Homo sapiens: one gene and its partners. The protein of the gene in region 2 purifies or fractionates together with the protein of the main gene of each other region. This does not show direct contact. Each region holds a gene or a part of one and is shown on either strand. Other genes may lie near its edges.

Region 1 (2,252 bases), on a different chromosome or scaffold from region 2:
TTAGGTTTGATTTCTGATGACTCTGGCCTGAGTTCCAGGATGGTTTTTTCTTGGGACCAGACATGAACAAAAGTTGACCTCATGAGCACTTCAACCTCTCCAGCTGCCATGCTCCTCCGGAGGCTGCGGCGACTCTCCTGGGGCAGCACTGCTGTCCAGCTCTTCATCCTAACAGTGGTGACGTTTGGCCTGCTGGCCCCCCTGGCCTGTCACCGACTTCTACACTCTTACTTCTATCTGCGCCATTGGCATCTGAACCAAATGAGCCAAGAGTTCCTGCAGCAAAGCTTGAAAGAGGGTGAGGCTGCCCTCCACTATTTTGAGGAGCTTCCCTCTGCCAATGGCTCAGTGCCCATTGTCTGGCAGGCCACCCCCCGGCCCTGGCTGGTGATCACCATCATCACTGTGGACAGGCAGCCTGGCTTCCACTACGTCCTGCAGGTTGTGTCCCAGTTCCACCGGCTTCTTCAGCAATGTGGCCCCCAGTGCGAGGGGCACCAACTCTTCCTGTGCAACGTGGAGCGTAGTGTGAGCCATTTTGATGCCAAGTTGCTCTCCAAGTATGTCCCTGTGGCCAATCGCTATGAGGGCACTGAGGATGATTATGGTGATGACCCTTCGACCAACTCGTTTGAGAAAGAGAAGCAGGACTATGTCTATTGCCTGGAGTCATCCCTGCAGACCTACAACCCAGACTACGTCCTGATGGTAGAAGACGATGCTGTACCAGAAGAGCAGATCTTCCCAGTCTTGGAGCACCTTCTGCGGGCTCGCTTCTCTGAGCCACATCTCAGAGATGCCCTTTATCTCAAGCTGTATCACCCCGAGAGGCTCCAGCACTACATCAATCCAGAGCCCATGCGGATCCTGGAATGGGTTGGTGTAGGCATGTTGCTGGGGCCCTTACTAACCTGGATATACATGAGGTTTGCCAGCCGCCCAGGGTTTAGCTGGCCTGTAATGCTCTTCTTCTCCCTGTATAGCATGGGTCTGGTGGAGCTGGTGGGTCGGCACTATTTCCTGGAACTGCGGCGGCTGAGTCCTTCCCTGTACAGTGTGGTTCCTGCCTCTCAGTGTTGCACCCCAGCCATGCTCTTCCCGGCACCTGCGGCCCGCCGGACCCTCACCTACCTGTCCCAAGTGTACTGCCACAAGGGCTTTGGCAAGGACATGGCACTGTACTCGCTGTTGAGGGCCAAGGGAGAGAGGGCCTATGTAGTGGAGCCGAACCTCGTGAAACACATCGGGCTCTTCTCCAGTCTCCGGTACAACTTTCATCCCAGTCTCCTCTAGGGTGCCAAGAGATGCCTTTCTGAAGTTGGCCACTTCTTGAAGATTCAAATATTTATCTCTTTATTTAGACATGGTTGCCTGCAGGTATTTCACTGTTTACTGTTGTTAGAGATATAGGCACTGGGGCAGCTGAGGAACCTCAATATGTTAAGAGCCTTGGCTTTGGTAGCCTCCTGGCAGGAGCAGCAGTTTGCCACAGGTCCGGACCTCTCCCTCCACACAGCCACACTGCCTCATGCAGTCTGACCCACCCAGTGAGGGTGCATTTGAACACTGATTATATTCTCCATTTGTTTTTAAGCTCTGCTTTGTGTTAGAGCTTGTGACTGCCAAAAATTTTGTGCACAGTGATATGACTGTTTTAGGATCTTAAGGGTAGAATTTTGTGAAAGGTGAGATCCTTTGGAATTGAGTTCTTTCTCATTGGGTATGAAAATGGATGTATGTTTAGAATATATGCCCAACGAGGCAGGACCATGTGGATAGATTCCATTTGTTTCCTTGACCTGATGTAATAAAAACTGATAAAAGCCGTGCAGTGCCCGGCATCTTGGAGGCAGGTGATCTGGCTTTTCTGTTACCTGGGATTTTCTTTTCCTATATATCTGTAGTGCACTGATAATTGATATTGTTAGTGAGAACTTTAAGGCACGACAAGATCTGGAAGAGCTTGTGAACCATCAAAGTCAGATTGCTTATGTTGAGTAGTGATTTAACATTGAACATTTCTGTACTACTCTGACTCTTTGAAAATTGGACATTTCAGAATGATACAATATAGGGGAGCTCTTTACAAGTAGCATATCATTTTTCCTGACTTTCCTGGCTGACTGCTTACCTTCATTTCTTTTTCTTCTAGGTAGCATGATGTTATAGAAAAAAAAAAAAAAAAATCATGGACTGAAGTCAGAAGACCTGACCTTTTATTTCAGATCTCTGCCATGGCCTAACGACGTGAC
Region 2 (3,171 bases):
GAGCGTCAGAGATGGGCCAGTTTGTGTTAAATAGGTTGGACAGGTGAGTGAAAGGTGGTATCTGAGCTAAGACCTCAGAAGGTGAGAGAGTGAGCCAAGCAGACAGCTGAGAGGAGAGCAATCCAGGAAGAGGAATCCCCAGGGGGATGTGTCAGGAGTATTTGAGATCAGTTGTGTCTGGAGCACTGGAGGCTGGTGGACATAAGGGCAAAGAGTGTAGCCAGGGTGAGGGCAGATCACATAGGCCTTAAAGGATTACCGTAAGGAGTTGGGCTTGTTAAGTAAAAACTATGGAAGGCCATTGTTTTGGACTAACCTCCTGCACTAGGTCCCAGCTGACCAGACCAAACCAAAATGGAATCTGTCGTATTAAAGTTCCATGTCCTCAAACCAAAACTAAGTTGTTATCTGACCTTTGAGACTCCTGGAGACAGAGTTAACAGCCAAATTCCCAAACATGACAGTTTCAGTTGGCGTAATAATGCAGACAGTAACCATGCTCATGATAATGAAGTTCCCCGTTTTAATCATTATTAAAAAGTAACCTGAAGAAAACTGATGTCAACCACCCTGTTCCGGCCGCATATAGAAAGTAACTTTGAAATGATGAATCTGGCCCTGTGCAGTGGCTCACGCCTGTAATCCCAGCACTTTGGGAGGCTGAGGCAGGCAAATTGCTTGAGCCAAGGGTTTCCAGTCCAACCTGGGTAACATACTGAGACCCTGTCTCCACAAAAAATACAAAAATTAGCCAGGTGTGGTGGTGTGCTCCTGTAGTCCTAGCTACTTGGGGGCTTAGATGGGAGGATCACTTGAGCTCAGGAGGTGGTGGCTGCAGTGAGCCATGATTGTGGGATTGGACTTCAGCCTGGATGACAGAGTGAGATCCTGTCTCAAAAAAAAAAAAATCAATCTTTTTTTTTGTTCTTCATTTCTTTCTGCCTTTGACAGCCCCTTCCTGTCTATAAAACTAACCTCTTCTACCCAGCTCATTGCAGCACTCTCTGTATTTTATGGAGTGAATCTGTTCCTGATTCAATGAGTCTGTTGCCTGATTCTAGAATTGCCAATAACGCTAATTGAGACCTTTAAACTAAATTTGTTGTAATCTGGTGTTTTGACAGGCTGCTGCTCTGAGGGAGGCGGAAGTAAAGGCCGAGAGTATCAGGATCACTCTGGCTGCTAGGTGCAGATGAGATGGGAGGAGAGCAAGAGAGAGGAAGGACAGGGGCCAGTTGGAAAACTATTACAGCAATTCTCCAGCCTGGCCAACATGGTGAAACTCTGTTTCTAATAAAAACACAAAAATTAGGGCCAGGCATGGTGGCTCACACCTGTAATCCCAGCACTTTGGGAGGCCAAGGCGGGTGGATCCCAAGGTCAAGAGATCGAGATCATCCTGGCCAACGCAGTGAAACCCCATCTCTACTAAAATTATAAAAATTAGCTGTGCGTGGTGGCACGCGCATGTAGTTCCAGCTACTCAGGAGGCTGAGGCAGGAGAATCGCTTGAATCCGGGAGGTGGAGGTTGCAGTGAGCCGAGATCGCGCCATTGTTGTCCAGCCTGGGCAACAAGAGTGAGACTCCGTCTCAAAAAAAAAAAAAAAAGAAAAGAAAGAAAGAAAGAAAAAAAATACAAAAATTAGCCAGGCATGGTGGCAGGTGCCTATAGTCCTGGCTACTTGGGAGGCTGAGGCATGAGAATTGCTTCAACCCAGGGGGAGGAGGCTACAGTGAGCGGAGATCTCGCCACTGCATTCCAGCCTGGGTGACAGAGCAATAGAGCAAGACCCTGTCAGAAGGAAGGAAGGAAAGTAGGAAGGGAGGAAAGGAGGAAGGGAAGAAGCGAGGGAGGGAGGGAGGGAGAGAGGGAAGGAAGGAAGGAAGGAAGCAAGGAAGGAAGGAAGAAAGATTGTAGCAATTCAGAAAAGAAAGCGTGGTATCCTGGAAGCAAGTGAAGAAAGTGGAGGAAGAAGGCGGGGCGAGCAAATGCTGCTGATGGCTGAGAACTGAGAACTGACCACTGGGTTTAGCAACACAGTCACTGAGGCCCCTGGAGAGAGCACTTTGAGTGGACACCCAATTGAGCTGGTTCCCATCTGTTCCCACCAGACCAAAATTTGGTCACTCAGGCTGATTTATTCCCCACATCCTCCTTGTTAGGGTAGTTCTCAGACTGCCTCTCTCCAAGGTCATTCATGCCAGTCATTTCCTCTTGGGCAGTAAGTATGCTGCTCTCAGAACAGCTGGATAATGAGGCCTGGGCAGTGCCAGGTGCCAGGTGCCATCCAAGCACGGCAGCCAGGAAAGCCTTCAGGTACTGGCGGAAGCGGTGACTGGAGAAGGCATACAGGATGGGGGAAAAGCAGCAGTGAAGGAAGGCGATGCTCTCTGTTACCTGGAGTGCGTAGTCTAGATGCTGGCTGACCTCACAGTTCCCGAATACTTGCAGGTCCAACAGCGTATGCAGAAACAAGGTGAGATTGTATGGGAACCATAGCACGAAGAAGGCCACCACCAAGGCTGCAGCTATTTTTAAAGCCCGGCCCTGGCCTGCGGGCCTCAGCCTCACCAAGACACAACCAATACGGGAGTAGAAGAAGATCATGGCAAGGAGTGGAAGGAGAAACCCTAGGAGGTTCTGCTGGAAGCGGAGGAAGAGCTTCCAAATGGTCCCATGCCCGCCGAAATCTGCGTGGCAGTTCCACACACCCTTGGGATTTTCATGTGTCTGTACAAAGACCATATCAGGGATGGAGACGGCCAGGGACACAGCCCATACTATGGTAGCAAGGAGCAGGCTCTTGGCCCGGGTCCTCAGCCTGTGGTAGGGCTGAGCATGAACGATCTCCAGGTACTTGTCCAGGCTCATGCAGCTAATGAAAAAGATGCCACTGTAAAAGTTAATAGTATAAAGAGTGCTCACCATCTTGCACAAGAAACTCCCGAAGACCCAATGCCAGGCCACGGAGATGCCCCAGAAGGGCAGTGTCACCAGAAACAGAAGGTTGGAGATGGCCAGATTCAGCAGATAGATCTCAACCATCCGCCTGCGAGGCACGTAACGGAGCAAGACCATGAGAAGAAGGAGGTTCCCGCTGAGGCCCAACACAAAAATCAGGCTATAGAAGACTGGGAGGAAGACTTTGCCAAAGGACACCACTGCATCC
Region 3 (3,038 bases), on a different chromosome or scaffold from region 2:
GGGAAAGCTCACACACACAATAATGCCAAAGAAAAGTTCTTTCTTCTCACCCTTTCAGGAATCTACTTGAAAATGGATCGGTTTATGTTGGATTAAATGCTGCTCTTTGTGGCCTCATAGCAAACAGTCTTTTTCGACGCATCTTGAATGTGACAAAGGCTCGCATAGCTGCTGGCTTACCAATGGCAGGGATACCTTTTCTTACAACAGACTTAACTTACAGATGTTTTGTAAGTTTTCCTTTGAATACAGGTAAATTCTACTTCACTATCACCAAAGAGTTTGCCTTAGTATATGTTATTTGCAGCTTTAGTCCATACTTATTAATATCAAGTAGCTGTATGCTGTAATGCAGTTAAGATTAAATCTTGCTAGCCTATATAATGTGGCAAATAATTCATATTAGTATGGTCTACCAACCAAGATGCACATACACAGCAGTTCTAAATACTTTTTCTTTAATTGAGATGGAGTTTTGCTCTTGTTGCCCAGGTTGGAGTGCCCTGGCGCAATCTTGGCTCACTGCAACCTCCACCTTCTGGGTTCAAGCAATTCTCCTGCCTCAGCCTCCTGAGTAGCTGGGATTACAGGTGCCCACCACCATGCCCGGCTAATTTTTTGTATTTTTAGTAGAGACAGGGTTTCACCATGTTGGCCAGGCTGGTCTCAAACTCCTGACCTCAGGTGATCCACCCGCCTTGTCTTCTCAAAGTGCTGGGATTACAGGCGTGAGCCACTGCACCCGGCAATACTTCCCTTTTTCTAACATATCTTTCTCACAGTGCTCATTTAGAGTAAGAAATATTTGGAAATCCATATATACATATATATGAAAATTATATATATGGAAATATTATATATATACAAATGTATATAAATAATATGTTGGCTACCTTAGATTTTTTATTTATATTTTATAGAGAAGTTCCTTAAAGGGGGAAAATATTTTTATGGGAATAACTCTTTATACAGTAAATCTCTTAAAGCACTAAATGCATATACATTTATCAAATACATGGAGATTTGATTTCCTTTTGAAAATCTACCATGTGTGCTGAATACTTTGAGTACAGTTAATCATAAAAAAAACTTTTGATTAATTATTTCAAATAAAAATATTACCATGGGTGCTAGGGAAGGCAGTCCATCTAAATTTTGTTAAGTGCTGCTCCAAATTTGTTTAAATTTGACGAGTATTTTGTTTTAATTCCCATGACCAGTGGAAACAATTTCTATGATCAAGGAAGACCTATCGCCCATTTAATTGAACAGACTGAGTGAAAATATTAGCCTAGGTCTGTTGATAAAAAACAAGGCAGAAAGCTAGCAGTAGCCCAAACCATGAGATTATTATATCTAAGTTGAGAACAAATTAGAGAACTTTTTTTCCTAAAATAGTTTTACCAATTATTCCTAGCTATTTTAAGTTACTCATAGATGTAATTATACCTTTTAACAGGCTTTGTACAATTACATTTGATATATTACCTGAAAAATACCTGTGATACACAAAAGAGGATCTTACATTCTTTAAATCATGTTTGCTTGACTATCATGACCTTCATTTCTATGACTAATTTATTTCCTAGGTGATTTGGATTGTGAAACCTGTACCATAACACGGAGTGGACTGACTGGTCTTGTTATTGGTGGTCTATACCCTGTTTTCTTGGCTATACCTGTAAATGGTGGTCTAGCAGCCAGGTAGGAAATAAAAAACTTTTTATAATATGTGATTACCTATAAAACTCACAACTTAAAGCAGCAAATATATTTTGTTTTTAAGGCATTTAGACCAAAGGCAATGTTACCCTCTTGATTAGAAGTTAGCAAGACCTGTTTTTTCTTATAATGAAATTCTACTTATCAAGAATTTCAAACAGTTATACTTGGTGTGTAGTTAGGCTATTAACCTTAATTTGTGTACTGAATACTAAACTAACTACAAAGCTGCAAACAGTATTATGCATGAAACTTCTATCATATAAACAATTATCTTGGATGAGTTTGAACACTTGCACTAAAGGAAAATTCCATCAGAAAATGTCTAGCTGTTATATTAGCCTTCTATTCTAAAATAATTCTGGCTATTCTCTGTTGAACTCTTGCATCAGCAATCTATGCTATAGCCTTGAAGCAAACTGGATAAAGAAACAAAAGTTTTTAGGATTAATAGACACTGAAGACCTTTACTTTAATATTCAGTTTTATCTTAAGACTTCTAGGACTAATATGTATCACAGATGGGTTTGCCATTTGATGCAACAATCTTTTCTATTGAACTATCTCAATGTTTTCTTACAGGTATCAATCAGCTCTGTTACCACACAAAGGGAACATCTTAAGTTACTGGATTAGAACTTCTAAGCCTGTCTTTAGAAAGATGTTATTTCCTATTTTGCTCCAGACTATGTTTTCAGCATACCTTGGGTCTGAACAATATAAACTACTTATAAAGGCCCTTCAGTTATCTGAACCTGGCAAAGAAATTCACTGATTTTAAACAAATATGTAAACAAAAATAAAATGGTAAAAACAGTTTATGTCTAATGTTATGTCTAATGTTATGCATAAACATAGACTTGTAATTTATCACGAGGTATAATTCTGGGACCTACAACAAAAGGCTACACAGGGCAACAAAAGGCTGAATCTAAGTAAAAGCTACCCACTTAAACAAGTTTAACTTCACGAGTTTGCCCAGTATTGTCTCTTCTACCTTGCTTGTTCTACCTTAGGCGTTGAGTTTGGTCTGTAACACAAGAGGAAAAAGTAACTATATAGTATTTTACACTGAAGACTTCATAATGACAAACAGGAATAAAAAATGAAAAAATATCTATCAATATACTATACCAAATGTTACTCACAATTCACTTTCTCAATTCAAATTATTAATCCATAGATTCTTAGAACTGATTTAACAACCTTCCTCAAATCAATCATCTTCTTGAGTCATTCAGGCTCAGCTTCAGCTATTATGATATAGACCTACCTACTTCGAGTCACCTTATTTAGAAAGCTGTATTTTTAGTTTA
Region 4 (3,500 bases), on a different chromosome or scaffold from region 2:
TAGAGAGCGTCTGAGCGGGAGGGGTAGTGGCCTGAGCCAGGTCAGGGCTTTCGGGACACAGAGAGGAGGGCATGGGGCAAAGACTCAGGGGGCAGGAAGGCAGAGCTTGGGGCTTGATGAGGGTGATGAGGGAGAGAGGGGGTGCCGCCATCGGTGGATGGCTCCGGGACGTATGCTCTGCTGACTGGGACACAGTGGGGCTGTCCCTGAGATGGAGAGCTCAGGAGGGCAAGCAGGTTTGGGAAATGTCGCTGAGTGCAATGTGGGAATCTGTGCATATGAGCGGCCTAGGGGGACCGAGGGGCATGTGGGGACTGAGATTGGGAAAGGTCTGGACTAATGTCCAGAATCTGAGAGGTCCGAGTTGTAGCTGGTAATTGAAACTGGAAGTAGGTAAGACGTCACAGGGAAAACAACGTGTAAAGTCAGGGGAGTTGCAAACTGGCAATTCTATAGCCAATTGTGTGCGTGTGTTTGTGTGTGTGTGTGTTTAGAAGAGCATTTAAAAATATCTGTCTTCTGTCTCTCTCTCTTTTTTTTTTTTTTTTTTTTTTGAGACAGGGTCTTGCTCTGTTGTCCAGGCTGGAGTGGCACGATCATGGTTCACTGCAGCCTTGACCTGCTGGGCTCAAGCGATCCTCCCACATGAGCCTCCGGAGTAGCTGGGACCACAGGCATGCACCACCATGCCTGGCTAATTTTAAAATTTTTTGTAGAAACCGGGTCTCCCTTTGATACCAGACCAGGCTGGTATCCAACTCCTGGACTCAAGTGAGCCTCCCACCTCACTCTGCCTGCCAAAGTGCTGGAATTACAGGCGAGAGCCACCATACCCGGCTACCTCTTTTTTTTTTTTGAGACGGAGTCTCGCTCTATCACCCAGGCTGGAGTGCAGTAGTGCGATCTCGGCTCACTTCAACCTCTGCCTCCTGGGTTCAAGCGATTCTCCTGCCTCAGCCCCCCGAGTAGCTGGGATTACAGGCACCCACCATCACGCCTGGCTAATTTTTGTACTTTTAGTAGAGACAAGGTTTCACCATGTTGGCCAGGCTGATCTCGAACTCCTGACCTCAAGTGATCTGCCCACCTGGGCCTCCCAACGTGCTGGGATTACAGGTGTGAGCCACTGCTCCTGGCCCTGGCTACTTCTTTCTGTTGAGTTACTTGACTGGCCTCTGCACACATTGGGTTTGAGAATCATGTAGGGAAGGCTTGCACTGGGAACACCTACACTCAAGGGAGGTGAAAAGCAAGAGAAAGCCACAAACAAGTCAGGCATGAAGCAGCCGGGGCGGGGAGGAAGGCCAGAGGGGCAGGGGTATCCTGCCAAGGAGAGGGTTTCCAGAATGAGAGCCTTTCAGCTGTAGCCAGGGCCACTTGTGATACAGTCAGATGAAACCTGAATAAGGGCCGTTGTATATGGAGCCAGGCAGGAAATTGATGATTTTTATCAAGAACAATTTCAGGCCAGGCACAGTGACTCACAGCTGTAATCCCAGCAGTTTGAGAGGCCGAGGTGGGCTGATCACTTGAGGTCAGGAGTTTGAGACCAGCCTGGCCAATGTGGTAAAACCCCATCTCTACTAAAAATACAAAAACTAGCCAGGTACTGTGGCACATGCCTGTAATCCCAGCTACTCAGGATGCTGAGGCACGAGAGTCGCTTGAGCCCAGGTGGCAGAGGTTGCAGTGAGCTGAGATCGTACCACTGCATTCTAGCCTGGGAGACAGAGCGAGACTCCATCTCAAAACAAAACAAAACAAACAAACAAACAAAAAAACAATTTATTTCAGTTTCTGTGGCTCCACCGAGGAAAGAGTGTAGGAGGCAAGCTGTGCAGAAGGAATGGCTCCTAGCACTGAATGTCAGAATTTTCCACGATTTTGGAAACGTTCTATGTCTACATCCAATATGGCAGTCCTGGCCACAGGGGGCTACTGGGCACTTGGAATATGGCCATTGTACCTGAGAAACTGAATTTTTTTTTGAGGTGGAGTCTCGCTCTGTCGCCCAGGCTGGAGTGCAGTGGTGCAATCTTGGCTCACTGCAACCTCCGCCTCCCGGGTTCATGCCATTCTCCTGCCTCAGCCTCCCGAGTAGCTGGGACTACAGGCACCCGCCACCATGCCAAGCTGATTTTTGTATTTTTAGTAGAAACAGGGTTTCACCATGTTGGCCAGGCTGGTCTCAAAGTCCTGACCTCAGGTGATCCGCCCACCTTGGCCTCCCTAAGTTCTGGGATTACAGGCATGAACCACTGCACTTGACCTGAATTTTTTATTTGATTTAATTTTAACTTATTAGAACAGAAAGAGCTCCATGGCTACAAAGAACCCATGCAGCTATCACATTGGACAGTACAAGCTCCAGACTATTCCGTGAAGAGCTTTTATTTTATTATTATTATTTTTTTTTTTTTTTGAGGCAGAGTCTCATTCTGTTGCCCAGGCTGGAGTGCAGTGGCACAATCTCTGCTCATCACAACCTCCGTCTCCCAGGTTCAAGTGATTCTCCTGCCTCAGCCTCCTGAGTAGCTGGGACTACAGGCGCGTACCACCATGCCCGGCTAATTTTTGTATTTTTAGTAGAGATAAGGTTTCACTATGTTGGCCAGGCTGGTCTCGAACTCCTGACCTCATGATCCGCCCGCCTTGGCCTCCCAAAGTGCTGGGATTACAGTCATGAGCCACCATGCCCGGCCTTATTTCTTATTTTTAGTGACATGGTCTTGCTCTGTTGCCTAGCCTGAACTGCAGTGGTGTGATCATGGCTTATTGCAGCCTTGAACTCCTGAGCTCAAGTGATCCTCCTGCTACAGCCTCCTGAGTAGCTGGAACCACAGGCGTGCACCACCACACCTGGCTAATTAAAACAATTTTTTTTGTAGGGATGGGGTCTCGCTCTATTGCCCAGGCTGTTCTCAAACTCCTGGGCTCAAGCAGTCCTTCTGCCTTGACCTCCCAAAGTGCTTGGATTGTGCCCAGCCGTCCTTGAAGTTTTGCTCAGAAGAGCAAACTTTCTGGGAAGTAGCTGCAGGTGTTGGAAGTAGCTGCAGGGGAACTAGGGGATTCAAGGATGGAGCTGAAATGGGTGAACGGACAAAGTCGGTAAACTGAGGCATGCCAGGGCCCTGGAGGTAGACTCAGGAATGAAGAAGACACTTTATTGTAGTTCTCACTGTGCCAGGACCTGGCCTAAGTGTGTTTGGTTCATCCCATGTGTGGATCAGTTAGCCGTTCTTTTAGTGTCTTTACGGCTTTTGCCAAATCCTTGTAGCACCTCTGCTATCCCTTCTGTAAAATTGCTCTTAAATCTGCTCACTAGGTTTGTGTAAATACAGGTCTCCCCTGATATCTGAACTCCTGGAATCTGGAACAAAGAATTTAGATACATTTTTCTCCTTCTTTCTTCCTTTCTCTTTCTTTTCTTTTCTTTTCTCTCTCTCTTTCTTTCTTTCTCTCTTTCTCTTTCTTTCTCTCTCTTTCCCTCCCTCCCTCCC
Region 5 (3,500 bases), on a different chromosome or scaffold from region 2:
GTTCATTTTCAACCTTCTTTCTTTGAAAAGGCTGGAAGAGAAGCTTTATTCCACCCTACTTCAGCTTCTTCATGCATCCAGCCTGGCTCTGGTCCCTCTTCTTTTTCTTTGAAACCTACTAGCTTCAATGATCCCATGTACTACCGTAGTACATTGGTAGTGTACTTCCAACTACCATAGATCCCATAGGGACAGCACTTCCAACTACCATAGCCTGCTTCTGGCCCAAGAGCCCAACATGATCATGGAGTCGGCCTCGTGCACTGTTTTGAGTTTCTGTTTTGATTCTTGGAAATGTCTGTCTTGTTTTTGAGCTTATATCCTTTTTTGTTTTTTTCTTTTTCTTTTTTTTTTTCTTTTTTTTTTTGAGATAGAGTCTCACTCTGTCACCCAGGCTGGAGTGCAGTGGTGTGATCTTGACTCATTGCAACCTCTGACTCCTGGGTTCAAGTGATTCTGCTGCCTCAGCCTCCCAAGTAGCTGGGATTGCTGGCCTGCACCATCACACCTAGCTAATTTTTGTATTTTTAGTACATTGTGTTTTTACAACCTACTAAATTATTATTTATCTGCTAAATTATTAAATCTACTAGATTTTTATTTAGTAGATTGTATTTTTAGTTTCACCATGTTGGCCAGGCTGGTCTTGAACTCCTGACTTCAAGTAATCTGCCCGCCTTGGCCTCGCAATGTGCTGGGATTACAGGTGTGAGCCGCCGCACCTGGCCTTGTTTTTTCATTTTAAAAATACCCGTCTTTTTTTGGAATGGAGAAGATACATCATCACTAATACAGTTTTATCATTTTTCTTCCCTTCATCGAAACCTTTAATGGATGGCTCCCCATTGCCTATAAAATGACTACATTTTGCAGCAAGGTTTATAAAACTCTTTACAACTGGTCCCAGTTTACCTTTTGCTGCCTTATGTCAAAACACCACTACTATATGGTATTATATGCAGTCTCAGACTATATTTGTTCTTTAAATATACCACACATTTTCACAGCTGTTTTGTTCATGTTATTTCCTCTACCTAGAAGGCTTTTTACTTTGTTCTGGAAAATACATACTTATCCTTCTAGTCTGGCTGAGAGGGATAGTTCTCTACTTATCCTTCTAGTCTGGCTGAGAGGGATAGTTCTCTATGTAGCTTGTCAACTCCCTCTCCCCTGCAAGGTGGTTACCCATTTGATGGCAGAAAACATCTTACTCATGTTTCTGTCTGCTGTGTTTTCCATAGGCCTGTCAAATAATAAGTGCTTAGTAAATGTATATTTTAGCATAGAGCAGGGGCTAGCAAATTTTTTTCTTAAAGAGTCAGGTAGTAAATTTTTTCTCTATTATAACTACCCAACTCTGCGAGGTGGTGCAGAGGCAGCTGTAGACAATATGTAAATGAGTGGATGTGGCTGTGTTCCAATAAAACTTTATTAACAGAAAAAGCTGGTGGCCAGATTTGGCCCATGTGCTATATTTTGCTGACCAAGGCATAGAGTAAGCAAAGAATATGATCCAAGTATTTACTAATTATTTTGTTTACTCTTTTATTGAATTAGGAAGGTATAGATTTAATAATAGTTCTGCTCTGAAATTTTTATAATTGCTCTTATGGAATGCTCTTTTTTTCATGTAAGTATTGGATGTAGTTTACTTTAAATAATGGTATATCAGAAGCTAGTAGGGAATTGTTGAATGAACAGTTATTAGTCTGTCTCTAGGGATGATCACCACTCAAGTCAGATTTTTATTTATTAATTATGCCTAGAATTTATCCAAATTATTTTATCAATACAATAATAAAATAGTCCATCTTGAAATAGTTTTTAAAATTACAGATAATCTTAAAATTAGTCAATGTTTGCTTTACTAAGGCAAATATGTCTTTCAGATATATGTTATTACTGTTACTTTATCTGTCTCATTAAACACTTTGTTATTAACAAATTCTTTGAAAAATGTTAACTAGCAGGTTTTGGGGAAGTTCAATTCTATGTTTATTGGATGGAGCTTTGCCTTGAAGCATCTGAACTTTTGAGTTATTTTTATTTTGGAGTGAGCATCTAGGGTACCTGATTGTGAAGCTAGATTTCAATCTTGTATGAGGGATGGTATATTTTTTTGTGTGAGTTAATTTAAATTTTTAAGTTTTTTTCCAATGCCTTCATTCCGAAAATGATACATGAATGTAGCAATAAAAGAAAATTGGAGTCCATGAAAAAATAGTAAAGCAATAGGAAAATACAGGTGAGGAAAGATAGAAAACAAAGAAGATGGCAATATGTAAAAAGGAAGTCCTGTAAGGCATATTTTACTGATGTGTTGTAAGGAAAAGTATATATGAAGTATGTTTAGAATTTAGAGTATGTGTAGAGTTGTTCCAGATGGGCAGCCAGAGAAGGCTGTGTGGAGGAAATATTCAATCTAGTCTTTTTTAAGATGTGAGTATGGAAACAAAAGAGCCTTCCCACTTCAGACTATGGTGGAGGCATGGAAACCTGTGCAGGACACAGCATGAACTATGAGGACACTTAATGACTTTCCAAGTGCTGTACAAATATAATGTAATATTGACCAGGATTGAAGTGCCTAAAAGTAAATGACCCAATGAAATTCTTACTAAGTTCATTAAACAAATATTAGGCAATATTTTTGTTTAATTTCTGCATCCTGTAAATTAATTCTGAGGACTCTGTTTTGGCAGTGACTGTTGAAGTGAAGGGTCCCTATGAATACCTCACACTTGAAGACTATCCCTTGATGATTGTAAGTGACTTTATATTATTTAACCTCAGTATTGGATGGTTTTGGGTTCAAAGATTGTCCCATGTTTTGTGGCAGTATTCTTTTTAATGAATTGTTCCTGTGCAATTCAGAAAATGTTGCTTGTAGTCCTGGATTTATTTCTTATTAGACTGGGACTTTGAGAGAGTCAGTATACCCTTGTGTGCCTCATTTTCTTATCCATATAATGAAGGGGTCAGTGACCTGTGGAAATACCTCAAAGATCATCTCACATTCTCTCTAGGATGCATAGTGGGGCACTTTTTACTACAACTCTATTGTTTCTGATCCCACTTACATTAACTAAATGAGGCTGGGTGCCCTGGCTCATGCCTGTAATCCCAACATTTTGGGAAGCTGAGGCGGGCAGATCACTTGAGGTCAGGAGTTTGAGACCAGCCTGGCCAACATGGTGAAACCCCATCTCTACTAAAAATACAAAAATTAGCTGGGCGTGGTGGTAGGCGCCTGTAGTCCCAGCTACTCGGGAGGCTAAAGCAGAATTGCTTGAACCCAGGAGACAGAGGCTTCTGTGAGCTGAGATCTTGCCACTGCACTCCAGCCTGGGCGACAGAGTGAAACTGTCTCAACAACAAAAAATTAACAAAATGATGAAGCTCCCTTCTCTTCATTTTGTGTGTGTATGTGTGTATGTGTGCACATACATGTATGTGTGCATACGTCTGTGTCTCAGAATATCCTTAATATATTTTCAATT
Region 6 (3,500 bases), about 10 Mb from region 2:
TCGTCAGTAGACCCATAAAGAAAATACTCACTTCAGCAGATTGTTAATAAATGTGCGTTTTTAAGTTAAAATGTTTAAGGTACACATGTGTTATCTTGTGTTCCATATTATTTGTATGCATCTTGTCTGATATGAGCTTTTGCATCTTGTCTGATAAGAGCTTCTGCTGCATCTCTCAGTGATTGCCACTCTTCTCTATTGCTGCTCCCTAGTCGCTATTATTTGCCCTGATTTCCTACATCAGCTTCCCAGTTGGATGTCCGCCCCAAGGTTTGCCTTACCTCTGGTCCCTTCTCCATATTGTAGCCAGTGAGAACTACTGAAAGCATACACCTGATCATTGTCAACCTTTACTTTAAAATCCAGACTCTTAATTAACGAGGACATTTAGATCTGGCCTCAGCTTACCTCTCTAGCCTCATATACTAATTTTTGTGCTGCCATTCTCTTCCCTTAAACTCTATACTTAAGCCATGTTGATTTGACTCACTTTGACAGTTAAGTTGGAGGTCGGGGTGTGTGTTGTCTGTATGTTGGGTCAGAGGGCAGGTGCCATGCTCCCTCATTTCTGGCCTTTCTATATACTGCTTCTCTGCTGGGAATTTCTTTCCTTAATCTTTCATCCCCCAAACTGACTCTGTTCTTCAGGTCTCAGCTTTCTCCTTCAGGAAGCCTTTCCTGACCCCGCAGTTGAGCGTCTCTCCTGTGTGCTTTTATAACAATATTATATATTTCCCCTTTGCTGGCATTAGTACACGATAGGTTAATTAATTCTTTATTTACCTGTATTTCCTTCAAGGCGGCCAAACTGTAAGTTCTGTGTAGATAAGGTTTATTCATTAATCTTGTTTGCCATAGTCTCCTCATTGTAAATATTTGAGTAAACGTATTATTCAGAAACAGCTTTCTAAATACTGTAGATTCTCTGAAAAAACACTTAAGTAAAATGTTTTGCTTCATTTGTAGTTGCTGTCTCTGCTGGCCTTCATCTGTGAAGAAGTTGTATCACAATGTACTTTATGTGGAGGACTTTATTTTTTTGAGTTTGTAAGCTGCAGTGCCTTTCTTCTGAGTCTCCTTATACTGATTGTGTATTGCACTCCATTTTATGAGAGAGTTGATACCACAAAAGTAAAATCATCGGTAAGCATGAGAAAATATCATCCCTGTATTAATAGCTGTTTTGTAATCTGGCATAATTTTATTGTTCAAAGCAGTAATGTTTTCAAAACTCAGCAACATGAAAAGACAGTATCCCTTGTTCCAACTCGCTCTGCTTCTAAGCACCTCATTTTTTCCTACCAAGGGGATGGTAGAGAGGGAAAGTGAGATTAGAATGAGAGTGACAGACACTGCCAATAGTTTACAGTTATTGGTGGTTTAATGTAATTCACATTAGACTTAAAAAAGCCTAGGATTTTGTCACTTCTGATTTCTCACTTTTGAGTGTCACTCATTGGTTCTACAATTATTAATTGTGTGCCTTTATTATATGCCAGGCATTTATATGCTAGACATTGGAGATAGAGTAATGAACTAATGTGAAATATTTCTGGAGCTTTAAAATAAAACAACATTTAAAGCTTAAAGCTTCAGTGATTGGGGAAAATAAAACAACATGTAATTCTTCCTATATTTTGCTTTAATGGTATTATGAAAAGTTGTCTATAAGTGAATTAAGAATGCATTTGTTCCTGTGTTAGTTTGCTAGGAGCAGAATCCTGTTAGAACCAATGCCCTACCATCTTGAGGTGCTGTCATGGCTAATGCCATCACTATAGGAATTTCTATGACAATGACAACAGGACTCATTTGTTTTATGAAATATATATTAAGAGGATACAGATAATCCTTAGAATTTTTGTTAATTATATTTGTAGTCTTTGGACATTTTTCTTTTTTACAGATTAATATGCCATAAGATTTGGACTAGGGAAAAGTTCTCAAGTGTCTGAGCTGGTTGATTTATAGTTTGAATGTGTAAAAAAAAATGTATATATTCCAAATTCTGGCTGGAAAAATTTATATTAAAAAAATTACAGATTGAAATCATTTTGTCATTTCTTAACAGTGAAACAATATCACCATAAAAATATTTTTAGAAATGTTTAGTTTTTATTTTAATGCTGCATCTGTAGTGTTTAAAGCACACTGATCATTTTGACAAGAAATGGTATTATAATATTGTCCAGTGTAGTATAATGGTGTAACGTAAAAAAAGTAAAACCTTTATTATATCAAACTTGAGCATTTAAAAAGTCATTTTAGAGTAAATACTGGTTTAAAAATACTGAGAAAAAAGAAAAATTAGTCCATCCTAAAATAGCTTTTGTATTATTTTGCTGTATTCCTTTCAAGTCTTTTTATTCCATTCATAGTTTTAAAATTTAAAATATTTGTAATCATAGAACATATATTCTACTTTTTACCTAATATAAGGATTTCATGTTTGTTTGCAGGGTTTCAAAATCACTTTTTACTGTCTGCATATTAATACACTTAGGTTTTAAATATTTTTTCATGCAAGAGAGGTTTTCTGTTTTAGAGGAATGTGTTTTGAGTGTGTGGTACTGGTGGTGCCTAAAGAAGAATAACTTTTTTTTTTTTTTTGAGAAGTCTTGCTGTGTTACCCAGGCTGGAGTGCAGTGGCGCAATAGCAGCTCACTGCATCTTCCACCTCCCGGGTTCAAACGATTCTCCTGCTTCAGCCTCCCGAATAGCTGGGATTACAGGCGTGTGCCACCACACCCAGCAAATTTTTGTACTTTTAGTAGAGATGGGGTTTCGCCATATTGGCCAGGCTGGTCTCAAACTCCTGACCTCAGGTGATCCGCCCACCTCGGCCTCCCAAAGGAATAATATTTTTTAAGAGAGAATGTCTTCTATCCCATGCTATTGCAGTCGGAGTCTATTAAGAACAACAGTAGCCAACATTTTTGGGACGTTTACATTTATTAGTGGTATAGCTCAGATTTGAACTCAGGTAGACTGGCTCTAGAACCCGTTTATTGAACACTACATTATGGTCTAAAAATGATTGTCTTGTTTCAATTAACTTGAATGTATTCCAAATATTAGTAAATAGAATTTTATATTTATATGTAATAAATTTGAAATAATCAAAAGGATTAAAAAATAAAGTACTACAGGGAAACACCTTTTAGAAGCAGAGAAAACCTCTTTTTTTTTTTTTCTTTTTTGAGACAGAGTTTCGTTCTTGTCACCCAGGCTGGAGTGCAATGGCACGATCTCGGCTCACTGCAACCTTGTGCTTCCTGGGTTTAAGTGATTCTCCTGCCTCAGCCTCCCAAGTAGCTGGGATTACAGGTGCCTGCCACCACACCCAGCTAATTTTTGTATTTTTAATAGAGATAGGGTTTCACCATGTTGGCCATGGTGTTCTTGAACTCCTGACCTCAGGTGATCCACCTGTCTTGGCCTCCCAAAGTGCTGGGATTACAGGTGTGAACCACCGTGCCCGGCAAGAAAACCTCTTACAT
Region 7 (2,226 bases), about 10 Mb from region 2:
CGGGATAGGTGCAGGGTTCCGGGAGGGTGATCAGCAGCTGCAGAGAAGCAGCTCATGAGGACTGAAGGTCCCTTTCTGTGGATGCCAGGGACAGAGAAAGGACATGGGAGGGAAGGAGGACTGCCTTCCGTGTGTGCTCCACTTGACCCTATGGGACCATCCATTTTTCTGAGCTGGCCTGACCTTGCCCGATGAAGGCATGACTGAGGCCATGCTTTGGAGGTCCTCTAATTGCTCAGGACACCTTGCATTTAGCTGCTTTTCTCCCACTTAGTGCAAAGCATTCTCCCTCTGAGTAGATAAAAACCTGCCAGGTGACTGGGCCCCAGTCTTGGTGTACTGACAGGTCTTAATCCTTAGCCCCTGGGTACTGGCTCTGGGCAAGCAGATTTAAATACATGCATTTTAATGCATGATAGGAGTTGCCCTTACTGGCCCTCTCTCTAGGTGTAGACACAGAAGGTTTGGGGCACTGAGTGACAGGATTATTAACATCCAAGTTATAGTTTGTGCATATAGTTCTGAGGGGGGTTAATATCTAAAAGGAATTAATACATTAACAAAAAAATAAAAACACTTCACACTCCAGAACACTGCTCATGATTTCACCTGCAGTGTGCAGGCTGCAAGGTGCAGAACACCTGGGCTCACACTGTAGCCTGGAGTACCAGGCCCCCATGCCTGCCACTCTTGTCCTGGGGCTGGAATTTGGTTGTATTGATCAATGCTGGAATTAATGGGTCAACGGGAGGGACCTGACTCAGTAATACTAGCCATATAGAGTTTGCCTTGTCTTATTCTGAGGATAAAAAAGTACATCTGTTAAACCTTATCTGTCACCAGTGCAATTCCCATGTGAGAAGTTACAGAAAGCTGCAAAGCAGCATTCCCCTCAGGGACAAAGTGGCTCAACTGGATCACAGTTTTCTTCAAAGTCCGCCTCTTGCAGGTGGCCAGGCCAGGAGTCTCCAGCCAGCTTTCACCCACCCTTCAATCAACAAATCCTGAGAGCCCACTCTGGGTCAAGTATGTGCTGACCTGGGGCGGCGGGGAACAGTGTGATCACGACAGGCAAGATTCTCCCGAACTCACTCTGGGAAATGTGATCTGAAAACCTTCCTGGTTTCATTTCTTGGATTTCTCACTGAGTAGCATTTTTCCTTCTCTAAAAACTCAGACCACAGTTTTGACACAAAGAAAGCCACAACTTCAGGGCCACACTCTGTTTCCATGTGGTGCATGAGAGAGAGAGGTTTCTCTCTCTCTTTTACAGAAGAAGTTCAATATTCCTGTGAAGGGTAAAATCACTGCATCTCTTTTTCTGGGCCAGATAATTATTAACAGTTAACAATTAAGATATAGTTTGTTGGAGCATGTAGCTCCAAAGGCCAATCATACGCAAAAGGAATGAGTATATTAGTAAAAGAGAAAATGCTGATTACTATAAAATGATAAAAAACTATTATTTTTAAAGGGCTTTTGGTCTTCACTTAAAAATGAAACTCCCCCCCCGCATTTCAGACTTCGAATGGTCACAGGTGTCTCATGCAGTGGCACTCTCTGGTGCCTCATCTCTGGGGTTGCTGTCACTCCGCTGCAGAGCCCTCAGTGGGGCTCTTACACAGAATGTGTTCCACCCACAGAACTACCCATAGCTGGTCCAGGTGCCTCGGGTGTCCAGGCTTCCCTGAAGTCATGTCATTTTGTCAGTGCGTCTGGGCACACCTAACTGAGTCCTGAGGAAATGGATCAGCTTGGTCTCTGTGAGGAATGCTGTCCCGAGAGTTGCTCCCAGACAGAAGGCCCCCACAGCAATGTGTGCCAGTCTGGCTGGCCAGCCCTGCTCACAGCAGAGGAATACCTGGGGAAAGAAACCATTGTCAGTGCCTGTTCCTCAGTCTATACCTCCTTCCTCTGGGACCAGCCAGGGAAGACAGCTGTGGTTCCAGCTTCTAAGTCAGATAAAAGGCATAACAGCCATACTGCAGGTCCATTGTTTCCCCATTGGCAACATTCTCTTGTCACATTATCAGAAGATGCTGCCCTAGAGGCCTGGGGAGGGGACAGGAGGAGGCAAAAACCTGGGAAGAGGAGGCCTAGCGGGAGAGACAGCGGGGCAGCTGCAGAAGCATGTGGCATGATGGCTCAGGGAGTCTCACCTCCGAAACAGCAGTAACCCCACCACTGAGGGCAAATGTCCCGAGCAGGACTGGCGATAGGTGCAGG

What was found.
Region 1: the proteins of ACKR2 (region 2) and PGAP4 purify together in Homo sapiens (affinity purification with mass spectrometry; one large-scale study listed by BioGRID and IntAct). This does not show direct contact.
Region 3: the proteins of ACKR2 (region 2) and TMEM126A purify together in Homo sapiens (affinity purification with mass spectrometry; one large-scale study listed by BioGRID and IntAct). This does not show direct contact.
Region 4: the proteins of ACKR2 (region 2) and TRPM4 purify together in Homo sapiens (affinity purification with mass spectrometry; one large-scale study listed by BioGRID and IntAct). This does not show direct contact.
Region 5: the proteins of ACKR2 (region 2) and TMEM87A purify together in Homo sapiens (affinity purification with mass spectrometry; one large-scale study listed by BioGRID and IntAct). This does not show direct contact.
Region 6: the proteins of ACKR2 (region 2) and CMTM6 purify together in Homo sapiens (affinity purification with mass spectrometry; one large-scale study listed by BioGRID and IntAct). This does not show direct contact.
Region 7: the proteins of ACKR2 (region 2) and RFT1 purify together in Homo sapiens (affinity purification with mass spectrometry; one large-scale study listed by BioGRID and IntAct). This does not show direct contact.

The regions. Positions count from the first base shown.
Region 1 is NC_000009.12:101,474,922-101,477,173, reverse strand, and holds part of PGAP4 (GPI-N-acetylgalactosamine transferase PGAP4), read left to right. Parts: intron 1-4; 5' UTR 5-81; coding exon 82-1,293; 3' UTR 1,294-2,252. UniProt on the Homo sapiens protein: Golgi-resident glycosylphosphatidylinositol (GPI)-N-acetylgalactosamine transferase that catalyzes the N-acetyl-beta-D-galactosamine transfer from an UDP-N-acetyl-alpha-D-galactosamine to the 4-OH-position of the first mannose of the glycosylphosphatidylinositol (GPI) of a GPI-anchored protein (GPI-AP).
Region 2 is NC_000003.12:42,864,616-42,867,786, reverse strand, and holds the end of ACKR2 (atypical chemokine receptor 2), read right to left. Parts: coding exon 2,130-3,171; 3' UTR 501-2,129; downstream 1-500.
Region 3 is NC_000011.10:85,654,005-85,657,042, forward strand, and holds the end of TMEM126A (transmembrane protein 126A), read left to right. Parts: intron 1-58; coding exon 59-252; intron 253-1,589; coding exon 1,590-1,704; intron 1,705-2,304; coding exon 2,305-2,497; 3' UTR 2,498-2,538; downstream 2,539-3,038. UniProt on the Homo sapiens protein: Protein required for the cotranslational protein quality control in the inner membrane of the mitochondria.
Region 4 is NC_000019.10:49,160,792-49,164,291, forward strand, and holds part of TRPM4 (transient receptor potential cation channel subfamily M member 4), read left to right. Parts: intron 1-3,500. UniProt on the Homo sapiens protein: Calcium-activated selective cation channel that mediates membrane depolarization. While it is activated by increase in intracellular Ca(2+), it is impermeable to it.
Region 5 is NC_000015.10:42,238,934-42,242,433, reverse strand, and holds part of TMEM87A (transmembrane protein 87A isoform 1 precursor), read left to right. Parts: intron 1-2,702; coding exon 2,703-2,764; intron 2,765-3,500. UniProt on the Homo sapiens protein: Potential monoatomic ion channel gated by mechanical force, implicated in normal touch sensitivity through the generation of mechanically activated currents.
Region 6 is NC_000003.12:32,489,353-32,492,852, reverse strand, and holds part of CMTM6 (CKLF-like MARVEL transmembrane domain-containing protein 6), read left to right. Parts: intron 1-966; coding exon 967-1,143; intron 1,144-3,500. UniProt on the Homo sapiens protein: Master regulator of recycling and plasma membrane expression of PD-L1/CD274, an immune inhibitory ligand critical for immune tolerance to self and antitumor immunity.
Region 7 is NC_000003.12:53,090,210-53,092,435, forward strand, and holds part of RFT1 (man(5)GlcNAc(2)-PP-dolichol translocation protein RFT1), read right to left. Parts: coding exon 2,160-2,226; intron 1,862-2,159; coding exon 1,694-1,861; 3' UTR 1-1,693.